2 linked regions of the Homo sapiens genome follow. The protein of the gene in region 1 purifies or fractionates together with the protein of each later gene. This does not show direct contact. Each region holds a gene or a part of one and is shown in the gene's direction. Other genes may lie near its edges.

Region 1 (7,991 bases):
GGGTGTGGGGAATAGAAAAAACGTGGTACTAAGAGAAATGCAGAAATGCTGGTGGTGATTCAAGAGGAGAAAATCAATAAAGGCTTGGGGCAGAACCTCAAAAGGTGTTTAAGTCAGGATACTTTCAGTTGTATGAAACGGAAAACCCCTGTCAAAGTATCTTAACCAAGAAATTTGTCTCATCTGACAGGAAGTCGTGAGTAAGGCCACCTTCAAGGTTGGTTAAGTCAGCCATACAACAAAGGCTGGAAGGCCCTGGTTCTTTTTATCCTTCCACTCTGCCATCCTTGGTGTGGTCTTTGTCATCAGGCTGTAGAGGATCGAGGCATCACATCCAAACCCAACCAAGTCCAAGGGCGAAAGAGACCATTTCTTAGATGCAAGGAAACCTCTAGCAGATTCTTCTCATGGCTTGTTGACCAGAATTGGGCCACCTGCCCATTCCTGAACCACACATTAGCAAGAGGAATGGGACTGCCAGATGTGACGCAGAGGGCCAGTCTTCCCAGAGCATGTGGCTGCTTTAAGAGGGGGACGCTGAACACAGCTGCTAGGGTTCTGAGAGGAAGGCGGCAGGAGGGGTGTGGAGGCAACCAGCAGGGCGGCTACAGAGAAGCAAAAGAAAAACAGAGAGGAGCAGAGAGGCAGACAATGACAGAGCCCAAGAGGAGGGAGGCAGGAAGGTGGGCAGGAACAATAAAGCACAGGTGGAGACAGACAAGCTCGTTAAGTTTGGTGTCTTAGGTTAAAACGCTGTTGTCATATCTTGCTCCTCAGCCAGGCAACTATTAGAAGAACACGCTTTACCTGTTTTCACTGCCACTTGAAGAGCTGATTAACTTGTCAGTAGTTAAACTTATTAACCATTTTTCAACCTCAGAGTTATAAGGGAGGTGGCCTTAGCAGTATTCAGACAGAAAATTTTTCTCCTTTTCTCCTTAAAATAGATCAGCATTTATTGAGTTGTGAAGGAGTTGCGTGAAATAAATATGATTACTTAGTTACTTTCTTACATCTTTATGTATAATTTTATCTTCTTAATTGTAAAAGCAATTTAACCACACTTAAAAATTGCAAACCAGAAACATGAAAACAAAATCACCCAGCCTTATAACTGTTCTTATTTGGCAAAAATTAACTCCTAACTTTTTTTCATACAACTGCATACCGTTTTGTAGACTGCTTTATTTTTCAAAACGTGTATCATATACATGGTACAAATTTCAAAAACAGACTAAAGGGGTTATTTAAAAATAAAACATGTCTCCTTCCTATCAGTATCTTTAGTCCCCCAGTTTGCCCCCCATTCCACCCTAACTCGCTGTTACCAGTTTATTTCGTTTTCTTCCATAGATAGCCTACCCATTAACAAGGAAATATGTGTATGGATATTCTTTTGCCAACAGAGCTTATCTTTTCACAAAATGATAGCCTACTGTGTACACTGTTTTTGTTCCTTGTTTTTAAAATTTAACAATATTACTTGGAGATAATTCCATATATAGTGCCTTTAAAATTTAACATTATAATGTATCCATATATTGCCACATACTCTATAAGCAGTATCTTCAAGAGCTGTAAAAACTGTGAGCAAATGACTCATTCATTCCTTTAATAAATATTTATCAAGCACCTGCCATATCTGCAGAGCTCTGGTGATTCTAAGATTACCAAGGGTTAGGTCACACCCTAGAAGGAGTCACAGCAGATTGAGGAGACAGGTAGGTAAACAAGTTCTTACAGGCAGCCTTTAAGTGCCGGGATGGAAGAACACAGCGGGTGTTGAGGGAATAAAGAAGGAGCCTCCGAGACATTGAACAAAAGTAGTGAAGAATAAGAGAAATCAGCTCACAGACAAGAGACAAGGAGAATGCCCCAGGCAGAAACTCTAAATGACATGTGCAGAGGCACAGAATGTGAAGGAACATTGTGGTCCAAGTAACTACAAGGAATTGGATATCACCCCTACTCTTTGATCTTTAATTTCTGGCCAAGTCTTCAATATAAATAATGCTATGATATACATCTTGCAGTGTATAACTTTTTCCATCTGCTGGGGTATTTCTTTGGGTAGATTCCCAGAAGAGGGACTGCTGAGTCAAAATGTAGGAGCACTCTGACCTGATATATACAGCCAAAATGCTTTCCAAATGGACATATTATTTCATAAGGACACCAACAATGTATGTGCTAACCAGTGCTCATTATTTTTGTATCTTTATTAGTTTTAATGTATACTTCATTTATTACTAGATTAATTTCCCCATATATTTTATTTCTTATATGATTTATTTTCTGTTTATACTCAACCACTGCGATTCTATATTTTACTATAGCTCTATGAGCCCTACTTATAATATAGACATTCAGGTTTTTATTTTTCATGTTTGCTGCCAATTTTTTTTCTGGTTTAGCTTACACTAAAAAAAGCTGGACACGTAGAAGTGTTTAAGATATTACCCAATCATATCCATTGATTATTTCCTTCTATTGCCTCTAAGTTGAGAAATACTTCTATACAGAGGTTTGACAAATATTTTTCCTTCTGGTCTGCTTTAAAATATATTTAACTCCTTAATCCTCATAGAACTTATTTTGGATATACGAAATGAGATAATTCAATTAGTTTTTCCACCCCCCCCTCCAAATTACTGATTAGTTATCTTACCTTTCCCTTCTCCATTGATTTTTCTTTTTAAGACTTTATTTTCTTAGCAGTTTTAGTTTCACAGCAAAATTGAAAGAAAGACTGCATACTGTATGATTCCTTATATATGGCATTCCGGAAAAGGCAAAACTAAGGAGACAGGGATACAGTCAAACTTCAGTGGCTGCCAGAGACTGGGGGGAGGAAGGGATAAATAGGTGGTGTACAGAGGACTTTTAGGGCAGTGAAAATACTCTGTATGATACTATGATACTATGAGGGTGGGTTCATGTTATTCTATATTTGTCCAACCCTATAGAATATACAGCCCCAAGAGTGAACCCTAATGTAAACTATGGACTTTGGGTGATAATGATCTGGCAATGTAGGTTCACTATTTGTAGCAAATGTGCTACTTTGGTTGGGGATGTTGACAATGGGGGAGGGTGTGGGGTCGGGTATATGGGATATCCACTGATTTTTATTTCAAAGATAAATCCACTTAGAGATCAACTCAGTCATCAATTGCATCTAATTTCTGGTCCTTTTGAAATGTGTCACATCAGCTTAGGACAGACCTTTCTTCTGACTCATCCAGTATTCCTGCAGCGACTGTTCTATTTATATACAGAATTACAACATAGCTCCAATAGGCTTAGGTAAAGCTTGTCAGTACCTTCCTGTTAACAAGGAAATCTGCTGCTGAAAGACCTTACTTTTGAAGTCTACCAGATTGGTGGTAGTATGGCCTGTGTTTTGAGTGGGTAGAGAGCACTTTTGAGGGAGTGAGGATTATTTCATCCAAAGGGCTGAAGCTACTGTTATCCCGTGTCATAGCTTCTGAGGTACTGAATGAGTAGGATCTCCTGGCCCTCCCATCTCTGTGGGTACCTCGTTCATACTTGCGACCTCAATATAGCCTCAATCCTGCTGAAGCCCAGTACTATCTCTAAATGTGGTTTATTGCAGGAAAAAGTAGCTTCTTGACTAGCCAAAACTTGACTGCCGGTTGTCAACTAGCCAGTTTTTGAGAAAAGTGAGAGGTTGTTACGTAGGAAACCTTATAACTAGAGGCTCTCAAACTCAAGTATTTAAGTATCATCTTTTAGATTTCTGTGTCCAGGATCGGGTTGCACTGGGTGGTGCTGGAAAAATTTTTTGATCTCACCTCCTTCTAGCCTTTTGAATCCTTAAAAATATTCCCATAGACATTTATACACAGTCCTGGGCGGTTCTTCCTTCTCCTTCCGTGAAATACTGGTACCTGCTTTGCCAACACCTATGAAAGTGCTCCAGGAGGAGGGCGGATAAGCAACTAATGAGCACACCTGCTCAGGTAGGGTTCTAAAACAATTTCCAGCCACCTGTTCTATTCTTCCCCAGAGTTCAAAAGCTTAATGGTTCGTGATCCAAAAACCCAATTCAGATTCCCCAGAAGACCTCCCTGGAATCCGTTGTGGATTCCTTCCTAGAGTTAGGAGGCAAGCAGGTTTCTTAGGCACTATTCTGTCGGGGTAGGGGGGAGCGTGCGCTGTCCGGGTTTGTGTGGTTGCAATAGACCCTAGGGCGAGGATCGCATCCCGGGCCAGGACTCCCTTGAGCCATCTCTTTTTCCTCGTCCCCATTTCTAGGATAAAACCCATTTCTCCGGTAGGTGGGGAGGTTGGGTTAGAGTCACACAGGGATTCAGGAAGCTTTCCTTTTCAACGTCCCATCCCTTCATCCTTTCCTCCCACTTCCCGTGGCTCTTTTCTCCACCTTCCCCAACTACCCCCTTTTCCATTCAGCGAAGTCCACGACGACTTTCCTTCCCTGTCCAGTGGCATCGCATCTTCTCTAGCCACATAAGCCTGTTGTGGAGGAGGGGGCGCCAGTGTGGCTACCCTGGAAGGGGTGTCGGGGGTGGCTCGCAGGTCCTCACTCACCCAGCCCTCTCCCCGAGGAGCGACCCTCTCGCCCGCGTCCCTCCAGAGCTGCGCCGCTCATCAATCCCGGTCACTCTGCCAGCCTGCTCCCCGGGCGCCCTTCCTTCTCCCTCTCGCCTGCGGTCCTCCACCCTCCCACCCCCTACCTACCCCGCAGCGACGTTCGGGGTCAGCGGCGCTTGGGGTTGGCCCGAGAAGGGGCGGGGATAAAGCGAGCGGTGGAAGGAGGCGGCTACGTGGTGCCACCGCCGCCCGGGAGCGCCCGACCCCGTGCGCGCGCGCGCCTAGCCAAGGCTTGGGCGGCGGGCGGAGCTGCGGGCGGCGCGGGCGGAGGAGCAGCCGGCCGGGCGGGCGGAGCGAGAGGCGGGCGGAGCGAGGGGTGGGAGGGCGCGCGCGAACGGGCGGGCGAGCAAGCGAGCGGCGTCTCCACCAGCATCTGCCGCGGCCGCCTTTGCCCGAAGCCCGGGGACGAACCGACGGACCGACCGCCTGGCGCACGGACGCGGGCGCTCGCTTTGTGTTCGGGGCTAGCGTCGGCGAGGCTTGAGCTTGCAGCGCGCGGCTTCCCTGCTTTCTCGCGGCCACCCCGGCTCCGGCGGCCTCGGCGCGCGAGGGGCTGGAGGTGCGGGAGCCGCTCTCCGCCGGTCGGTCCCCGCGCGGCTGAGCCCAGGCCGCCAGCGCCGCGGCCCCGTGCGGTGTCCCTGAGCTCCTGCTCCCCGCCGGGCTGCTCCGAGCAACGGTGCTTCGGAGCTCCAAACTCGGGCTGCCGGGGCAAGTGTCTTCATGAACCCAGAGGATGTCCGGGAAGCACTACAAGGGTCCTGAAGTCAGTTGTTGCATCAAATACTTCATATTTGGCTTCAATGTCATATTTTGGGTAAGTTGGAGCGCTCCTGGGATTCCAACTATTGTGGCCGATCGATTCGCGACGATTTCCCCCACGTTGTTCGTTGCCTTTACTTTTCGCAGCCCCGCAGGCGCTTGCCGGAGCAGCATAGAGGCATTCGCCTTCCGCCTTTCCAGCTTGCGCGTTGGAGAGATAAACATTTAATCCTTTCGAGGAATGGGAAGAGGTGAAAAGAGAAATCGAGGCGGAAAGGGGGCACCGAGGCCTTCTGGTGGCTTTTTGAGGAACGAATAGCAGGGATGCAGATAAAAGAAAGGGTTCGGCAGTTTGAGAAATGAGCAACCACACGAATTGGATTTGCTCTCGGTGGGATATAGATGTTGGGCAGAGCGTGGTGTCATAATAGGGAAGGCTAATCGGGCACGGCCGACCCTGAGGTCCACCTTCTAACAACGATCTGATTGGACGAGGGCTTGGCTCCGTGTTGCCGCGGCTGGTCTGTGCCATGCTCAGCGTGTATCTTCTTGCACCATCTCGGGCTTTGTGTAGGATGCAGATGCCGTGGTATATGGTCCTGTAATTGCACGTAAATAACGTTTCCTGCACGCTCTCCTCTTCAGCTGGAAAGCGCTCCCTGTGCGTAATGGACTGGTCAGTGGGGGTGCGGGGTAGAGGGATTTATTTGTATGTATATATCATCGTCAGGATAATAAGTCACCGTCAACATATATTTCAGTGTGTTCCTGCCCCACGTCCTCATTTTTAAAGGAGTGACACAGAGCGGGCCGTTTGGGGGAACCTTTGTAGAAATGCAAAGGAGAAGGTGTGCGAGGCATGTTTTATTGGGGAACCGAGAGAGCAAATGCTTTAACACAAGATTCAAATGATGCTCTGCTTGGGACTGCAATGTGTTGGGAACCTATTGTAATTAGGCTGGGACGCCTACTCTTTTTGTTTGTTTGTTTGTTTTGATTCTTTTCCTTGATCTGGCAAACGTGTTCAGCAGCCAGACAAAGAGTTCTCCAGGACAAGGGGAAAACGTTGGTTCAAAGACCATGTTATTTTTCTTCCCCTTCTCATCCCATCTCATCCTCTTCCTCAGTGGGCACCCGCATTTCCATAGAAAGTAAAGATGGTGGCTGTCTGGGTAGGGGGTTCTCTAAGTTGCTGTTCAGTGTGAGGTAAACAATGCTCCAACTGCAGGATCAATAATTATCCACAGCAGTCTGAACACGGAATGTATTTATTTGAATTCTCCTTTAATTTGGGCTGTTTGCTGTACGTATATACATCTGTGAGAATAGTTGTCAATACGGCTCTTCATATTCTTTTTTTGTACCGCACTCTTACCAGGTTATTTTATTTTCTGTTTTCTATTATAATACCTTGCATTGGTCATGTATGTTTTGTGAGGGGAAATGCAAGGGATTGGAGACCACTTTCCGTGTCAGCATGTCATCTGTCTTCAGGACTAATAAAGATAATGAGGGGACACATGAATGGATGTCATATCCGATCATTCCACAGGCAGTTTTTTGCCAGTGTTGTGCATGATTCCCGGGAGCAGTCACCCACCTCCCTGCAATTAAACACTGCTACAAGTACAGGAAGAAGGAATTATTTTCTTTCTTTGCCCCTTCTCCATTTGTGAAAATGTTTAAAAGTGGTGGGTAGCCACGGTTTTGAGTAAGATATTCTGATTTGATTGGAACTTGAAACTTTGTGACTTGGAGAGGCACGGACTACCGAACTGGGACTGGTTCTTTTTGGGGTAGTGAGTTCAGGCCTCTTGTTTCTACTTGAACATTTCTAAAAGTTGCACATTTTAGCTACCCAGCAACAAAAAGCACCCAGGGACTTTCTCTGCCGTTTCCTAGCAGGGGGTGGTAAGGAAATAAAAGGATTTGGGTCTGTTTCCCTGACAGTTTGCTGTAATTCTGTGGAGTGCATAGAGACAAATTTAGCCCTTTCTATGGATTAGGTTGCAGCAAAACCCCTGGAATTGTAGAGAGCTTCAAAGAATTGCAGAGTGCTTGCTTGGAGAGGTCCAGAACAGAGCCGCATGTTTTCTGATTGTGAAGGTCTTCATAGGTGGGTGGGTGAGTATGGGAAGCCTGAAAGGAGACCTAGGCTATGGGACTAAACTAGCTGCCCCAGGCAGAATTGTTAAGTGAGTGCCTTCCTTATGAGGGCCCTTCACTTACCCTGCCTCTTGCCTTCCCTTCCTCTCCTCTCTGTGCCCAAAGCCTTCCTCTCAGATACTCCCTCATACCTTTCCTATCCTGCTCTCTGCCTCAAAATTACCCCATATTTAAATTTCCTGCTTTATTGTACCATGGTCTCTAGTGATGATCAACAGAAAGGCAACCATATGGTTTTGGTTAAAGTAATTCAGACTAAGATGTTAGTGACTGAAAAGCTGGGGTCAGTAGCTTGGCAGCTTGCTTCTGAAAAGTTACACACCTCTGCTCTCTACAGAGTCACCAACCTGTCTGTGATTGCCAAAAACAGCAGACTCGGTGCTACTCCCATACAATTATGAAGAAGAGATTGCCAACAGCATGGTTTCCTA
Region 2 (7,733 bases), about 97 Mb from region 1:
GCTGGAGTGCAGTGGCACGATCTCAGCTCACTGCAATCTCCGCCTCCTGGGTTCAAGCGATTCTCCTGCCTCAGCCTCCTGGGTAGCTGGGACTACAGGCGCCCGCCACCATGCCCAGCTAATTTTTGTATTTTTAGTAGAGACGGGGTTTCACCACGTTGGCCAGGATGGTCTCGATCTCTTGACCTCGTGATCCGCCTGCCTCGGCCTCCCAAAGTGCTGGAATTACAGGCATGAGCCACCGCGCCCGGCCACAACATGTCTGAGGTTATTTTTAAGTCAGTTAAAATACTGAAACAATCATTAAACACAATTTTAAATTGATATACGTTGGCATTGTATTTTTATATGGTATAGAAAAGTTAAAAATATTTAGATCTGTTAATAAGCAAAAAATTGAGGAAACATCTTCCTAAAAAATTATTAAATGGGCCGGGTGCGGTGGCTCACTCCTGTAATCCCAGCACTTTGGGAGGCTGAGTTGGGCAGATCACGAGGTCAGGAGATCGAGACCATCCTGCCTAACACAGTGAAACCCCATCTCTACTAAAAATACAAAAAAATTAGCTGGGCGTGGTGGTGGGAGCCTGTAGTCCCAGCTACTCGGGAGGCTGAGGCAAGAGAATGGCATGAACATGGGAGGCGGAGCTTGCACTGAGCCAAGATCACACCACTGCACTCCAGCCTGGGCGACAGAGCAAGACTCTAAAAAAAAAAAAAAAAAAAAAAAAAGAAATGGTTTCCATCTAAAAATGCTGATATAAAACAGTTCAAAATTCCTTCCTAGGTTTTTCACTAAACTTGAAGTTACTGACTTACAATTGTAGTTAATGCACTTTGGGAGACCAAGGCAGACAGATCACTTGAATCCAGGAGTTGGAGACCAGCCTGTGCAACGTGGCAAAACCCTGTCTCTACACAAAATACAAAAATTAGCCAGGCGTGGTGGTGCAGGTCTGTAGTGCCATCTACTTGGGAGGCTGAGGCAGGAGGATTGTTTGAGCTCAGGAGGCAGAGGCTGCAGTGAGCCAAGATCACACCGTTGCACTCCAGCCTGAGCAAGAACAGGGAGACCCTGTCTCAAAAAACACTGTAGTTTATATATATAATTAAAACTACTAGATGTAAAAGAAACAATTCTGAATACAGAGCATGTAAGAAAAATAGGTTATGTCTTTGGTAAAGATTATAAAGAAGGCATGAAAATGTGGTTTTTGTTATGGGAAGAGTAAATTTGTCTAGAGGTTTTTAAAGGTTTAGTTGAAGGGATAAAAACGAATGATAGATAAGAGTGGATATAGAAAGCTGTGGAAAGAAAGAGAATGGGGTAAACTGTGAGACGTTATAAAAGATTTATTGGGCTGGGCGCGGTGGCTCATGCCTATAATCCCAGCACTTTGGGAGGCTGAGGCGGGCGGATCGCCTGAGGTTGGGAGTTTGAGATCAGCCTGACCAACATGGAGAAACCCTGTCTCTACTAAAAATACAAAATTAGCCGGGCATGGTGGCACATGCCTGTAATCCCAGCTACTCGGGAGGCTGAGGCAGAAGAACTGCTTGAACCCAGGAGGTGGAGGTTGTGGTGAGCAGAGGTGGTGCCATTGCACTCCAGCCTGGGCAACAAGAGCGAAAATCCATCTCAAAAAAAAAAAAAAAAAAGGATTTATTGGCCAGGCATGGTGCCTCATGCCTGTAATCCCAGCACTTTTGGAGGCTGAGGTGGGAGGGTCGCTTGAGCCCAGGAGTTCCAGACCAGCCTGGACAACATGGAGAAACCTTGTCTCTCTCTGAAAAAAAGAAAAAAGAAAAAAGAAAAAAGATTGATTGACATCTTACCTTGCATAGTGAAAGCTGGTTGGGATTGGAGGGATTGGCATTCCCATTGTGCTTGCAGCCCTCCTCCATCTTCCAGACTGTGGAACGCACAGGTGGGATAATAGAAAACCCATCTGCAATGCTGAAACCAGCTTCTAACACTCCCTGGCCTAAGGTGTTTCCACTGTGGTGCTGAACTGGGGTTCTGCCCTGTTTGGAAAACATCAGCTTTCTCTCTTTGAAATAATACCAGGAAGGCCCTGTGCCTGGATGAAGGAGCCTCCAAACCAGCTCCCCTTAAAGGCGATATTCTTCATTATTGCCGAGACCCTATAGAGCTTCTCACTGCACATTCTAAATTAATTAAGGATTCTGTTAACGGCGAGTTCTCAGGAGATGAAGACATGAAAGTTCAAGGTCTCCAACCTGGAGATTTCATGAGAAAAGCATCAAATATAGGACTTCCTCCAACCACAATAGATGGGACCACACCAGGCAGCCTCGCCAGAGAGGTCGTTTCCATCACTGGAGAACTTCAACATCTTGTTCTTCAGGCCAGGACCAGAAGGAGACAAAATAGGTATCTGGTTACCTTCAAAAATAGAAGCACTCTTCAGTTCTAGATTTCAAATTGTTAATAGTTGCCCTTATTTGTGTCATTTTTTCTTTTTCTTTTCTTGTTTTTGAGGCAGAATCTCAGTCTGTTGCCAGGCTGGAGTACAGTGGCACGATCTCAGCTCACTGCAACCTCCGCCTCCCGAGTTCAAGTGATTCTCCTGCTTCAGCCTCCCAAGTAGCTGGGATTACAGGCGCCTGCCACCACACCCGGCTAATTTTTGTATTTTTAGTAGAGGCGCAGTTTCACCATGTTGCCCAGACTGGTCTCAAACTCCTGACCTCACGTGATCCACACGCCTCGGCCTCCCAAAGTGCTGGGATTACAGGCATGAGCCACCACGCCCGGCCCATATTTTTCATTCTTAAATTGATTAGGCTTTGTGTTTCTAGATGTCCAAAGTCAACCAAAAAACCCCGAGGATGCTAGCTAGATGCTCAGAAGCCATCCGGTATGCGTGGCTCCTTCATAGCAGACGGCCTGACAGACCCCGTGCCAATCAACCTTGGCCTTGAGGCCTCACGAAGTTCTTAAGCGCCCACCGCACCTGTCCTCTTTCCCCCCATGCGGGGTGAGATGGCCCGGGAATGAGCCTTCCCAGCAGAAAAACTTACATCTAGAATGTCGATCATCACTGCTTTGAGAAGAGAAAATTTTTGATCAAACACGAGAAATGAGAAAAGAAAAATAGCCGGAGCTATGTGGGATTCTCAAAGATTATCTGGCCCAGAGACACCTGAGTACAGGGCCTCAGTCCCGCCTCCCCACTCACGCCCGGGGCAACTGCTGGAAGGCATTTTGTTCTTTCTTTTCTTTCCTATAGTGTCCGCCTGGCCGCCTCAGCGTCATCTTCATGTTCCTGGAATTTGTGACAAATAATGTACACCAATCAATAGCTTATGCCATTTTAATGCAAATTCTTGGTGAATTTAGGAGCTGCGTCTTCATTTTTCCTTTAAAAACGCACTTGCAACTGCTGCGAATGAGAGCGCGTGCATTCAGACCAACCTGAGTCTGTCCTTCCACGCTGCAGTCCTCAAACTTGGCCCCAACAAACTATTTCTATTCGTTTTGCCTGTTTTCTCCTTTAGGTTGAAAAGCTGACAGCGGGCCCCAGACACTGAGGGGGCGCCTTCCCAGCTTGGCTTCCCCTCCCCCCCACGCCCCCACCCCGTCCCCTGCCCCTCTCCAGGGCCCGTTCTCTGGCGGACGGGGCTGTGGACCAGTTCAGCCGCCCCTCCCCACCCCACCAGGGCGCTGCGGCCTCACTCCCACGTCCACGGGCAGGCCCAGCCCCTCCTGGCCTTCAGGTGACCTCAGCTGCCCGGCTGGCCCCAACTCCACCGCACAACGCAGACTGCGGGTCCCCAGGCCTGGACCCCTGGCCCCGTCCCGCCCGCGCATGTCGGGGAAGCTCTGCTCCGGCAGCCCTCGGGGTGGTGCTGGGAGGTCGCGCAGAACTGAAGGGGGCTAGGTTCGAGAAGCGCCGAGGATGGGGTCTGCGACCGCCTCCCCGCACCTGAGCTTCTCCGCCCCAGCCTGCGGCGTCTGCAGGTCCTACAAGGCGCAGAGCCCCCGCTGCACCTGCACCGAGGCCACGGGGCGCATGCGCGGCCGCGGGGGGCGGGGGCCGGGCCGGGAGGGGTCCTGCGGGCCCCGCATCCCCGTGCCCACTGCGGGGCTCGGACAGGGGGGCGCCGCGCCAGGCCGCAGACCCCGCCCTTCCGCGTCCCCACTCCGGCTGCCCGTGCGGCTCCGGACGAGGCTTCCCGGGGGCTCCGGGCCGGGGCAGCCGCGGCGCCCTCTCCCCAGGTCCACCGCGGGCGCTGCTTTCAAACAAAGGCAGGAGACGGAGCGGGAGACGCTGCCGTGACTGCTCCGGGCGGCCGCGGAGGAGGAGGAGGAGGACGTGGCGCCGCGATCGCCAGCGGTCGGGCCCGGGGTCGGGGCGCTCCCAGGCGCGCGGCGTGGGAGCGGGGGGCGGGGCGGGCGGCGCCCATCACGCGCTCCGCGGCCGGGTCCCGAGCCCCGCCGGACGCCCCCGGGCCAGGAGCCCCCGCCCGCGCCGCCGCCCCCGCCCGTGCCGGGCCCCTCGCGCTGCCCGGCCGCCCCGTCGCGCCCAGCGAGCCACCCGGCGAGGCGGGGGCGGCGTCTCCCCCACCCCCGCGATCACATGGTGACCCCCGGCAGCCAATGCAGTGGACGCTAGGACCCTGCGGGCCGCGGGCGCCGCGACTGCACCGGCGCCGCCGCATTATAAATACTTCTCCAAAATGCGGCGCAGCTCCCTGCGCGCGCCCCGGCCGCCCGCCGCCTCCGCCCCGCGCCCCTGAGCTGCCGCCGCCGCCGCCGCCGCTGCCGCCGCCGCCGCCGCCGCCGCGGGTCCGAGGGCGCCGCGCCCTTGCCCTGGGCCCGGCCGTGCCCGCCGCCGCCCGGCCGCGTCCCCGCTGCCGCGCCGCCCGGCCGGGTGCATGCATTGTGGGCCTCCCGACATGGTCTGCGAGACGAAGATCGTGGCCGCCGAGGACCATGAGGCGCTGCCGGGGGCCAAGAAGGACGCGCTGCTCGCCGCCGCCGGCGCCATGTGGCCCCCGCTGCCCGCCGCGCCCGGGCCGGCCGCCGCGCCCCCCGCGCCCCCACCTGCCCCGGTGGCTCAGCCTCACGGCGGGGCGGGGGGCGCGGGGCCGCCGGGGGGGCGCGGCGTGTGCATCCGCGAGTTCCGTGCGGCCGAGCAGGAGGCGGCGCGCCGCATCTTCTACGACGGCATCATGGAGCGCATCCCTAACACGGCCTTCCGCGGCCTGCGGCAGCACCCGCGCGCGCAGCTGCTCTACGCCCTGCTGGCGGGTCAGTGCGCCGGGCCCCCGGCTGCCGCAGTCCCTCGGGCCGGCGCGGAGCTCCCCCGCCCCGGCGTCCACGCGGACCCCGCGCCCGGCTCCCGGGGACCAGCCTGGGAAGCCCCCCGCTTTCTGCCGCGCCGGGCCCCGCGCAGGGCTGGCTATGGGCGTGGGGATGGGCGCAGGGCCCCGAGCGGGCCGGAGCCGGGGAGGGTCCGGGGTCCGCACCTGCGTCCCCGCCGCGCAGCCCCCCACCCCCACCGCCTCCCCTGTCCCCTCCCGGGCATCCTGGGTGGGGGCGGGTGCCAGGGCAGGTAGCGCCCGCCGCGGCTGGGCCCCGGCGAGTGCCTAAATATAATCTGCGGGCGGGGGAGGCCGCCTCCCGCTCGGTGCTAATTTATGAGGGGAAGACAGCCGGCGCCGCGGGGGGTGCGCGCGCCTGGCACAGCCGGGGCGGTCGCAGAGGGCGGCCCCTTCAGCGTCTTTGGGTGCCCTTCCCCTCAGAGCTTCCTGCCGGGGTGAGGGGGTTCGCTCCCATTTTACAGATGAGGCGCTTGAGGCCGCGTAGGGAGGACGCGACTCCCCCAAGGTCACGGCAGCCGAAATGCGGCTGGAAGCGGTGTGGGGCCTCCCTGCCCTGTCCCTGCCCTCAGAGCTCCCGGACGCTGGCCAGGAAGGGCTCTTGCTGGGGCCCTGGGAAGAGGGGGTCCTGGAGCCCGAGGCTGGAACGTGGGACACCCCCCTTCCTCCTCCCCCCTCCCCCCTCCCCCGCGCGGGGCCTGGTCTGCGGGGCAGCTCCCTGCCAGGATCTGCCCACCTTGGCTTCAGTAGGCCAGCGTGGGCAGAGTCCTTCCCGGCCCGGCCATCCCGAGGGTGTCCTGCCGTGTTTGGAAGCTCAGAGACCCGCCGAGGCTCATTCCAGGCGGTGGGGGTGGGTGGGGTGGCTGTCTTCACCGCAGGAAGCTTGGAAATAGGGAGAAGTAGAAAGCACCCGAGATGACCCCGGCTCCTCCACCAGGAGCGCGGCCGGGCGCGGCGTCCCTAGCGGGCTTCGCCGGGGTGGCGTCTCTGGGGCCTGGGGACCCCCGCCGCGCCGCTGACCCGCGCCCTCTGCCCCCAGCGCTGTGCTTCGCCGTGAGCCGCTCGCTGCTGCTGACGTGCCTGGTGCCGGCCGCGCTGCTGGGCCTGCGCTACTACTACAGCCGCAAGGTGATCCGCGCCTACCTGGAGTGCGCGCTGCACACGGACATGGCGGACATCGAGCAGTACTACATGAAGCCGCCCGGTGAGTCCCGCTCCCGCCGCTCCCCGACCTCCGCCCCAGACAGCCCTCGGGGGCACGCACTCCAGCGACCTCAGGGCAGGCCTGGGCGAGGGCCGGCGTGGGTGGGCCTGAGCCGGGGCCCCTGTGACCTGAGCCTTCTGGGTGACCGAGGCCTCCGGTGTCAGCGGGGCTGGGGGAGGCACGGCCGGTTCCTCCCGCTGAGTGACCTGAGCTGGCCCTGCGACGCAGTGGCTCCACCGTTCCCTGCTGTGGATGCGTCTCCCTGGCGCCTGCTGCGGTGGGGCAAGGGCCGCTGGGCTCTGTGGGTCCCATCTGGTGTGCCTTGCGGGGATGGGGTTGCCTGCAGTGCCAGGGTCCTGGGGGGAGAGGGCTTGTGTGGCAGGGGCCGGGGACCCTATTGGGGCACAGAGGATGGGGTGGGGGCAGGGGACCTGACCTTGAGCCTTGGCCTTCACTTCTGGCCTGATCGCTGGGCCGCTTAGCTGAAGGGTTTTGTCCCAGCCTCTGTGGCCTTCTATAGCTGGAGGAGCTGGGTCTGGGCTCTAGGGGGGGTGGGGGTTGTTCTCCACCCTCGGGCTGGCCCCCAGCCGCTGAGCCACACCGGTTCCCCCATGCCGGATGCCGCAGGGGTGAAGACTCTGCTCTCTGGGGTGGGAGGCTCTCTGCGATCCTGGAGCGTCTGTAGGCCAACGAGAGGGACAGAGTGTGGCCCAAAGGGTTGGGCAGGGTCTGTCAGGAGCCCGGTCAGTGTCAGGGGAGGGGCAGTGTCTGGCACCGCTGGCTGCCATGCTCCACCCCCGCGCCACGGCCTTGGTGCCTGCTGCTCTCCCTGACCCTTTCCTAAACCCAAACAGAGCATCTGAGCAGCCCCTGAGCCCTGGCCAGCCTCTGCTTGGGAGGGGAAACGGGCCATGAGGAAGCACAGGCCACAGCAACACAGGGGGCTCCGGTGGGCACACGGGGCATGGCCCTGCTCCCTCTGGGCCGTGGCCTCCCTGGTGTGAGGGAGTGGAGGGGTAGCTGGCAGGGCTGCAGGAACACCCCACGAGGGCAGAGGCTGGATAGCTGCTGATGGCCCGTGGTGGATTCTGGGAGCTGCTTGTGCACATGGGGAAACCGAGTCTTGGGAGGAGTGAGGTGTGCCCAGGGCCACATGGTGCTGGGGGTTGCTACTTCTGGG

What was found. The genes of interacting proteins can lie anywhere in the genome.
Region 2: the proteins of TSPAN5 (region 1) and NAT8L purify together in Homo sapiens (affinity purification with mass spectrometry; 3 studies listed by BioGRID and IntAct, with this or other methods). This does not show direct contact.

Annotation. Positions count from the first base shown.
Region 1 is NC_000004.12:98,655,604-98,663,594, reverse strand, and holds the start of TSPAN5 (tetraspanin-5), read left to right. Parts: upstream 1-4,983; 5' UTR 4,984-5,368; coding exon 5,369-5,449; intron 5,450-5,945; exon of another isoform or gene 5,946-6,055; intron 6,056-7,991. UniProt on the Homo sapiens protein: Part of TspanC8 subgroup, composed of 6 members that interact with the transmembrane metalloprotease ADAM10.
Region 2 is NC_000004.12:2,054,610-2,062,342, forward strand, and holds the start of NAT8L (N-acetylaspartate synthetase), read left to right. Parts: upstream 1-4,717; 5' UTR 4,718-4,902; coding exon 4,903-5,278; intron 5,279-6,388; coding exon 6,389-6,553; intron 6,554-7,733. UniProt on the Homo sapiens protein: Catalyzes the synthesis of N-acetylaspartate acid (NAA) from L-aspartate and acetyl-CoA. Promotes dopamine uptake by regulating TNF-alpha expression. Attenuates methamphetamine-induced inhibition of dopamine uptake.